Homo sapiens: one gene and its partner. The protein of the gene in region 2 purifies or fractionates together with the protein of the main gene of each other region. This does not show direct contact. Each region holds a gene or a part of one and is shown on either strand. Other genes may lie near its edges.

Region 1 (3,500 bases), about 20 Mb from region 2:
AAATCAATCAATAAAAAATGGATGTGAGGAATTACTCAAAGAAAGGAATTTTTTTGTTTGTTTGAGACTGAGTCTCACTCTGTGGCCCAGGCAGGAGTGCAATGGCGCAATCTTGGCTCACTGCAACCTCTGCCTCCTGGGTTCAAGTGATTCTTCTACCTCAGCCTCCTGAGTAGCTGGACTACGGGCGTCCACCACCATGCCCGGCTAATTTTTGTATTTTTAGTAGAGACAGGGTTTCAACATAATGGCCAGGCTGGTCTTCAACTCCTGACCTCGTGATTCACCTGCCTCGGCCTCCCAAAGTGCTGGGATTACAGGCATGAGGCACCGTGCCCAGCCAAATAAAGGAATTTTTGAAGAAAGGAACCCTCAGGATCAACTCTAGAAGATAATATAAAAGCAGCCAGACGGTCCACACTACTAACTTCCACCTAACAAGACTGAGAAAATCGGCCGGGCGCAGTGGCTCACGCCTGTAATCCCAGCACTTCGGGAGGCTGAGGCAGGCGGATCATGAGGTCAGGAGATAGAGGCCATCCTGGCTAACATGGCAAAACCCCGTCTCTACCAAAAATACAAAAAAATTAGCCGGGTGTGGCGGCGTGCGCCTATAGTCCCAGCTCCTGGAGAGGCAGAAGAATGGCGTGAACTCAGAAGGCAGAGCTTGCAGTGAGCCGAGATCGCGCCACTGCACTCCAGCCTAGGGGACAGAGCAAGACTCCACATCTCAAAAAAAAAAAAAAAAAAAGACTGAGAAAATGTTCTGAAGCCATAGAGAGTGGCACACATACAAGAAACAGAGAGTGAAGGGCTATTTTATACAGCATCATAAGCATTAGAAGATGGTAAAGCATACAATGAATTGGAATCAAAAACAGAAATTCACTCTGCCACCCAGAAATGGGATACGCGTTTTCTTAAGCCCATCCAGGGTGAAGAAAACTACTCCACTTGAAGTTTGATAGGAAATTGGCTCTGAGAATAGCTGTCTTCTTATAGGAATCCCACAGCATCTAATACTCCCCTTTCTTTCCTTCGTTCTTCACCTACCTGCTTTAAATGCTTTTTCAGCTCTAGTGATTCTGGTTCTGGCAGGATAGGCAGCACTTCTGCATTGGTGGGGGCAATCACCTGCACCAGAGAAATGATAAAAGACGTGACCTTAGAGTTTATTGCTCAGGAATTTCACTTACATAAATAAAAATAAGAGGACGTATATACATTATTATTATATAAACGAATATACATTATATAACTGCACAGTAAGATATATGTACACACATATATGACATACATATGCATCTGAAATGAAATATAACTTAATGTTATTGGTTATTATCTCTAGATAAAAGGATTATGGTTTTTCTTTTCACTTATTTTATTTACGCTTATTTTTATTTTTTTTAAGTTTTACAATGAGCACACATAAGGGCTTCCCACCAAAGTCTGAATGTATTCACATTGCAGAATGGTCATATAATTAATTAAGCCTGCACTGAAAGACAGTTTCTTACTGGAAACTATACCCCAGGGAAACCATTAAGAGATGATCTATACCACATGTAATGGCCCTCAGATCACAACTGTCTGACTGCTCTTGGAGGATATGGTGGGGGGTCACTTAATTCTGGCAAAAATAAATCCTGTAATTCTCTGAGACCTAACCAAGGGTTTATTTGGCTAATAAGGTAAAAGGAGCATTTAAAAAAACTTGTTTCAGTAAGTCTCGCAATAGAAATTATCCAACAACTTAGGACGTTCCTGAAAGGAATCTAGAAACAGATATCTCAGGACTGGGTCTAGAATGCAATCCTCCTCTAGACTCTACAATGCCTCAGCCAAGAACCTCACCCTATTGCTGTCCAGATCCACTAGCCATACATCATCAGGCATTTTGAAGTCCAGTTTGTAGAGGAAGAAGCTGGCAGGAACCCCAATGATGTACGGGGTTGGAGCCAACAGCAGCTGTGGAAATGATAAAGAAGGTGAGAAACAAAGACAAAACCTATCATGAGCACTTATCAAGTCTGGATTCTTCTAGATAAGGAAATGCAGATACAATCCCTCTTCCAAAACTCTTGAGGCCAGATGTATTTGAAAATTCAGAATTTTTCAGATTTTTTGAAAGGTAACATGGTACATTTTTTTGTATACAGTAGTCTTTCTTATCCACAGTTTCACTTTCTGTGATTCCAGTTAACTGAGGCAAACTGTAGTCTGAAAATATTAAAAGGAAAATTCCAGAAATAAACAATTCATAAATTTTAAACTGCAGCTTGATCATATCTGAAGTGCAGGACAATAGTTCTGAGAAGCATGATGAAATCTCATGCTGTCCCGCTCTGTCCCACCCAGACATGAATCACCCCTGTGTCCAGCCTGTAGCCATCTCGGTTATCAGATCAACTGTCACACAATCTCAGCGTTTGTGTTCAAGTAACCCTTATTTTACTTAATAATGGCCCCAAAGCACAAGGGTACTGATGCTGGCAATTGGGATATGCCAAAGAGAAGCCAAATATATGTAGAAAGAGGCTGGGCACGGTGGCTCATGCCTGTAATCCCAGCACTTTGGGAGGCTGAGGCAGGCGGATCACCTAAGGTCAAGAGTTCAAGACCAGCCCAGCCAACATGGTGAAACCCCGCCTCTACTAAAAATACAAAAAATTATTTGGTGTGTGGTGGTGGCAGTGCCTGTAATCCCAGCTACTAGGGAGGCTGAAGCAGGAGAATCACTTGAACCTGGAAGGCAGAGGCTCCAGTGGGCCGAGATTGTGCCACTGTACTCCAGCCTGGGGGATAGAGGGAGACTCTGTCTCCAAAAAACACCAAATATATGCCCAAAGAGAAAACTGTTACTCTCTTACTGTGTCTAATTCATAAATTAAACGGTATCACCGGTATATATGTATAGAAAAAAACAAAGTATCTATAGAGTTTGGAACTATCTGTGGTTTGAGGCATCCACTGGTGGGTCTTGGAATGTGTCCTCCACAGATAAGGAGGAACTACTGTATTACGTAACACACGTAACACCTGCTGCAGTGTAGCCAGTGGCCTACAGTCATTAACATTTGTTGTGATAAATGAAAACTAAAATAGCATAAGCCTTGCCACCAGATCAGTTCAAATCAGTCAGATTTTGTAGACAAATAAGTTATGACAAAGGATTGAGGACCAGCACTCACTTACAACTTCTTTGAGCATTAAGCCTCCTCCCTCAGGAAGACAGAGGTGAGAAAGCCGGAAGTCGCCTTGAGACTCACCTGCTCTGCTGATGCCATGCAGGTGGGTAGCAGCGGGATGACAGGAAACATATACTCCAGTGGGTAGATCATTGCCACGAATGCCATCACAGACATGGAGAGTGCATTGTAGTCTCGGGACTGTAGCACCACCTGTCATGAGCCATCCAGTAAGAATCACTCCAAAACATAAAATATGGTTTACAAGAAAACAGCTTCCAACATTACAACTTGGTTTCCACTTCATCGAGC
Region 2 (4,194 bases):
GTAGAGCTGGGCCTGGCAGTCATTCCTGTAGCCCAGTCCAGCCCCTCTTCCATTAGCAGTGACAACCCTCATGCCGTCTTCCCCATCACCCGTAAGACCCATGGGGCAAATCCTGTTACTACCCCCTCCTCCACGGAGGAGGAGAGGGAGGCTCAGAGAAGGGCAGTGAATTGGCCCGAGGTCACCCAACCAGTGAGGAGGAAGCTCAGACCAAGCCGCAAGTGCTGCTGTGCAGCCAGTGCCCTTCTCAAGGGCTTTGCTCACTATCCCCGAGACCCCTTGACTCTGTCTCACCTGGGACCACCTCAGTGGGCTCCCGCTGGCAGCCTGGAGGTCTGCCAGGCAGAAGGACTGTGTCTTTGGCTAGAAGAGGATAGCAATGAGGTACAGTGGGACCAGGGCAGCCTGTGACCAGAGCATCCCCGGTGTCCAGACACACAGCAAAGAGCATAACATGGGGGACCAGAGTGGCTCCAGACCCTCACTGAGCTCCCAGACTGCACATCCCTACCTCTGCAGCACCCCTCCCCATCTGACCAATTCGTTCAGTCCCAAATCCCCAGACCCTAAACTGCACAGAGCTTACTCATTGAAAACAGCTCTAGGTTCAAATTCCAGCTCGATCATACCTACCTAGCAATATCTCCTTACTGCTACATGCATGTGGACATAACATGTGCTAAGTGCTTAGCACTGTGCCTGGTTGTAGTAGGTACACAATGTGGACATGATGATTCAGTGGATTAATGGATCCCCCTTTTATAGATGAGGAAGCTGGGGCCCCAGGTCACCTAGCATACAAGTAGCAACACTGGGATTGGTGCCAGGGTGCAATGGATCTGGGCCTGGGCTCTTGGTCACCATGCTGACTCCTGAACAGGCAGGCCTTTTGGGGTGGGGAGTTGGAAGAGCCCCCCACTTCCCCCAGCTTTGCTGGAATCAGACCATGGCAGAGGCCCCTCCTGGGCTTGTCAGAGAATTGGCTTTCCATGAATGTTGTGCCTCGGCGGGGGAGAGGGGCCCTCTGTCCCTGCCTTCTGCTCCACCCCACCTCCTTGCCCAGTGTCCTCACATCATTCTCTGGCTAGCAAGGCAATGGGAAGGGTCGGGAGTTGGGCCCAGGAGAGCCTCATCCTTCAACCTGTGAGCCTCTTCAGGATCTTTAGGTTGAAACCTTTTCAAGTACCCCTCCTCCGCTTTCTGAGATAACCACATCCTGCTGCCATCCCCCAAACAGCCCACAGAAACCGCAGGACAGACTGGCTGGGAGGTGCTGGCTGGCATTTATTGGGCACCTACTGTGTGACTTGCCCTGTGTTATCTCAGCACCGCAGCCCTCTGAGGGGGCTGCTACCCTGCTCCTTGTACTGGAGAGGAAACTGAGGTGCAGTGTGGGCAGCGCTGCCAGCCTACAGATGTGTTTTATTTGTCAGTCAGTCACCAGAGCTGACAAGTGGCAGAGTCCGGGTTTGAAACCCAGGCTGGGAGCCCCCACTCTGCAGAGCTGCTTAGGAAAGCTTTCAGACTTCAGAGTAGGGAGGCTGGGGGCTTGGGGACTTGTCCTAACCCTTCTTCACACTGGCTGTGGTAACTTCGGTGGGTCTCCTGCCCTCTCTGAGCCTCAATTTCCCCATTTCTAATAGGAAGCACTATTGCTGCTGCTCTCTAAAACTGTCATCCCCTGACGGGGAGAAGGAGCTGACATTCCATGGTGCAGCTTTCCCAGGCTTTTGGGAATGGAGGAGGGTGCACACAGTCTCTCTGCAGCCCCTGGAAGAGAGCTCCCAGGATGGCCAGCTCAGGGCCTTCCACCCACAGGCCAGGCTCCCGGCCCCCCACCTCCCTCCCCCAACTTCAGCCCAAATCTACAGCCTTGAGGCCCTGAGTCTGGGCAAGCTTCCTCCCCTGCCCCGCCATACCCCTCTCCTAAGCTCTGGAAAGCCCCCCACTCAGGCTGGTGCCACCGGCGGCTGAGGGTCATATCTGGCTCTTCACACGGCCAGGGCCTCCTCGGGCTGGGGTGCAACGTTCCCCTCCAGATTGGGACGGTTCCTGCAGACCCAGCGCTCCTGCCTCGGGAACCTCCAGGGTGTATGGGGACCGGAGTGTCGGGAGGGGGTGCGAAGCCAGAGCAGGGACAGTGAGGACAGTCAGGGCGCTGAATGCGAAAGTGAGGGGCGTGTGTGCAGCGTGGGCGCGGGGAGGCGTGTAAATGGCCGGGTGAGCCGCGTGTGTGCACATGCGGGGCGTGCGATGCGATGCGCACTGCGCGGAGTGGCCGGGCCGGGTAAGGGCGCCCAGCGTGCGCGGTGCCCGGCATTCGTTCGTGTGCAAGCGCGGCGCGGAGGTGCAGGAGCGCGGAGTGCGCGGGGCTCTGGGGTCCCGGGCCCAGGGCCCGAGGAGGGGGCTGCGTGCGTCCGCGATCAGGGTGCGATCCCGGCCGCGCACGGGGGTCGGCGGGGTGCGTACTCACCCGGGCTCCGCGGAGGGGCCGCCGCTCCGGCTGGGCTCCAGCTGCCGGCCCGCCTCCCGCAGCGCGCACGCACCTGCGCCTAGCCCGGCCGCCGGCGGCAACGCCACCCCTGCAGTGTCGCCGGGCTCCCGCCTCCGAGGAGCGCGGCGCGGGCCGGGGGCTCGGCCGGGCCGGGGCGGCGGACCGGAGCTGCGCCGCAGTCCGGGCACGCTCCCAGGAGCCCGCCGCGCGCTCCCTCGCGCTCGCCCGCTTGCCCGCCCGCTCCCTCTTGAATTTAAAGTGACAAGCTCGAGCGCTGTCTCTGCTCCTGGGGTCCGAGCCGGAGATCCCCAAGCGCGTCCGGGATCCAGGGACGCCCTGAGGCCAAGCCCAACCCCTCGCTCCCACGCCTGGGGACAGGGGTGGGTGGGGACGTGCCCACAGGCCTCTGAGAGGCAGGCCAAGCACTGGACTCAGAGCCAGCCGGCCTGGGTTCTAGCCCCAGCCTCCGCGCCCTGGGTTATCCTGTTCTCTTTCTAGGCCTCAGTTTCTTTACCTTAAAAACGGACCCGATACTGCGCACCTCCGGGAGCCAAGGAAAACAGCGACAGGAGGCGCAGCGGAAAGTTTCCCCTTTTCTGAATGGATAATTACTCCCTCCCACCACGATTGAGCTGTAGGTCAGCTCTGTGCTGGTGCCTTACAACATCATCTCAGTCCTCACCGTGGCCTAATCTGGTCGTGGTGACTCCATTTTTTACATGAAGAAACAGGCTCAGAGAGGTGACCAAGGTCACAGAGCCAAAGGTCAGAGCCAGAATTGAACCCAGGTCTGTGTGACTTCAAACTCCATACCTTTAACCACTAAGGGGTCGTGCTTTCTCTCCCAAAGGAATGAATGAATCATTCAGGAGATATTTATGACGCCCCCGCAGGGGCTGGGCACAGTGCCAGGTGTGGGCGATCTTCCATCTTCCGGGAACAGGGGACAGGTCCCTCCCTGCCCGCGCAGTCTGGCAGTGAGGCACGGCTTGCACTGGGAGGGGCTGGGTGCGGGGGAAGGTGCCACATGTTGTGGGCACAGTAACCAGGGGAGCAGGCTGGGTGGACACCTGGGGAGACCTCTCCAACGGTCTGGGGTGGGGGAGGAAGAGGGGCGAGGATCCCAGATGGGGAGCAAGTGTGCAAGGGTGGCAGTGCTTCCTGGCTCATCTACACTCTGGGCCTTTAGAGCTGAGGGCAGCCTGTGGGCACTGACCTCTCAGTGGAGGCTGGGTCTGTGCTGGCTTGGTGCAGTGTGGGCATCCTTGGTCTAGAAGACAGGATGCTGGGGAGCCCTAGAAAGAGAGTTGCATCTGGCTAACACGGTGAAACCCCGTCTCTACTAAAAATACAAAAAAATTAGCCAGGTGTGGTGGCGGGCGCCTGTAGTCCCAGCTACTCGGGAGGCTGAGGCAAGAGAATGGCGTGAACCCAGGAGGCGGAGCTTGCAGTGAGATCGCGGCGACTCCGTCTCAAAAAAAAAAAAAGAAAAGAAAAAGAAAAAAAGAAAGAGAGCTGCATCTTACCTTCACCCACAGGGGGCGCTTTTGTCTTCATTTCATTTCCTGGACCTGGAACAGAACAAAGAGAAAGGGCATTATCATGGGGCGGGGGGCCTGGGTAATGGGCCCTGAGCTTTCACTGCCATTTCCCATTTAACTCAACCTTCACAGCCAGCTGCAGCTTTGGTACGATTGAGT

Evidence for each region.
Region 1: the proteins of SYT12 (region 2) and MADD purify together in Homo sapiens (co-immunoprecipitation; 3 studies listed by BioGRID and IntAct, with this or other methods). This does not show direct contact.

What each region holds. Positions count from the first base shown.
Region 1 is NC_000011.10:47,276,633-47,280,132, reverse strand, and holds part of MADD (MAP kinase-activating death domain protein), read right to left. Parts: intron 3,402-3,500; coding exon 3,270-3,401; intron 1,969-3,269; coding exon 1,855-1,968; intron 1,135-1,854; coding exon 1,054-1,134; intron 1-1,053. UniProt on the Homo sapiens protein: Guanyl-nucleotide exchange factor that regulates small GTPases of the Rab family. Converts GDP-bound inactive form of RAB27A and RAB27B to the GTP-bound active forms.
Region 2 is NC_000011.10:67,021,740-67,025,933, reverse strand, and holds the start of SYT12 (synaptotagmin-12), read right to left. Parts: upstream 2,801-4,194; 5' UTR 2,474-2,800; intron 1-2,473. UniProt on the Homo sapiens protein: Synaptic vesicle phosphoprotein that enhances spontaneous neurotransmitter release but does not effect induced neurotransmitter release. Unlike other synaptotagmins, it does not bind Ca(2+) or phospholipids.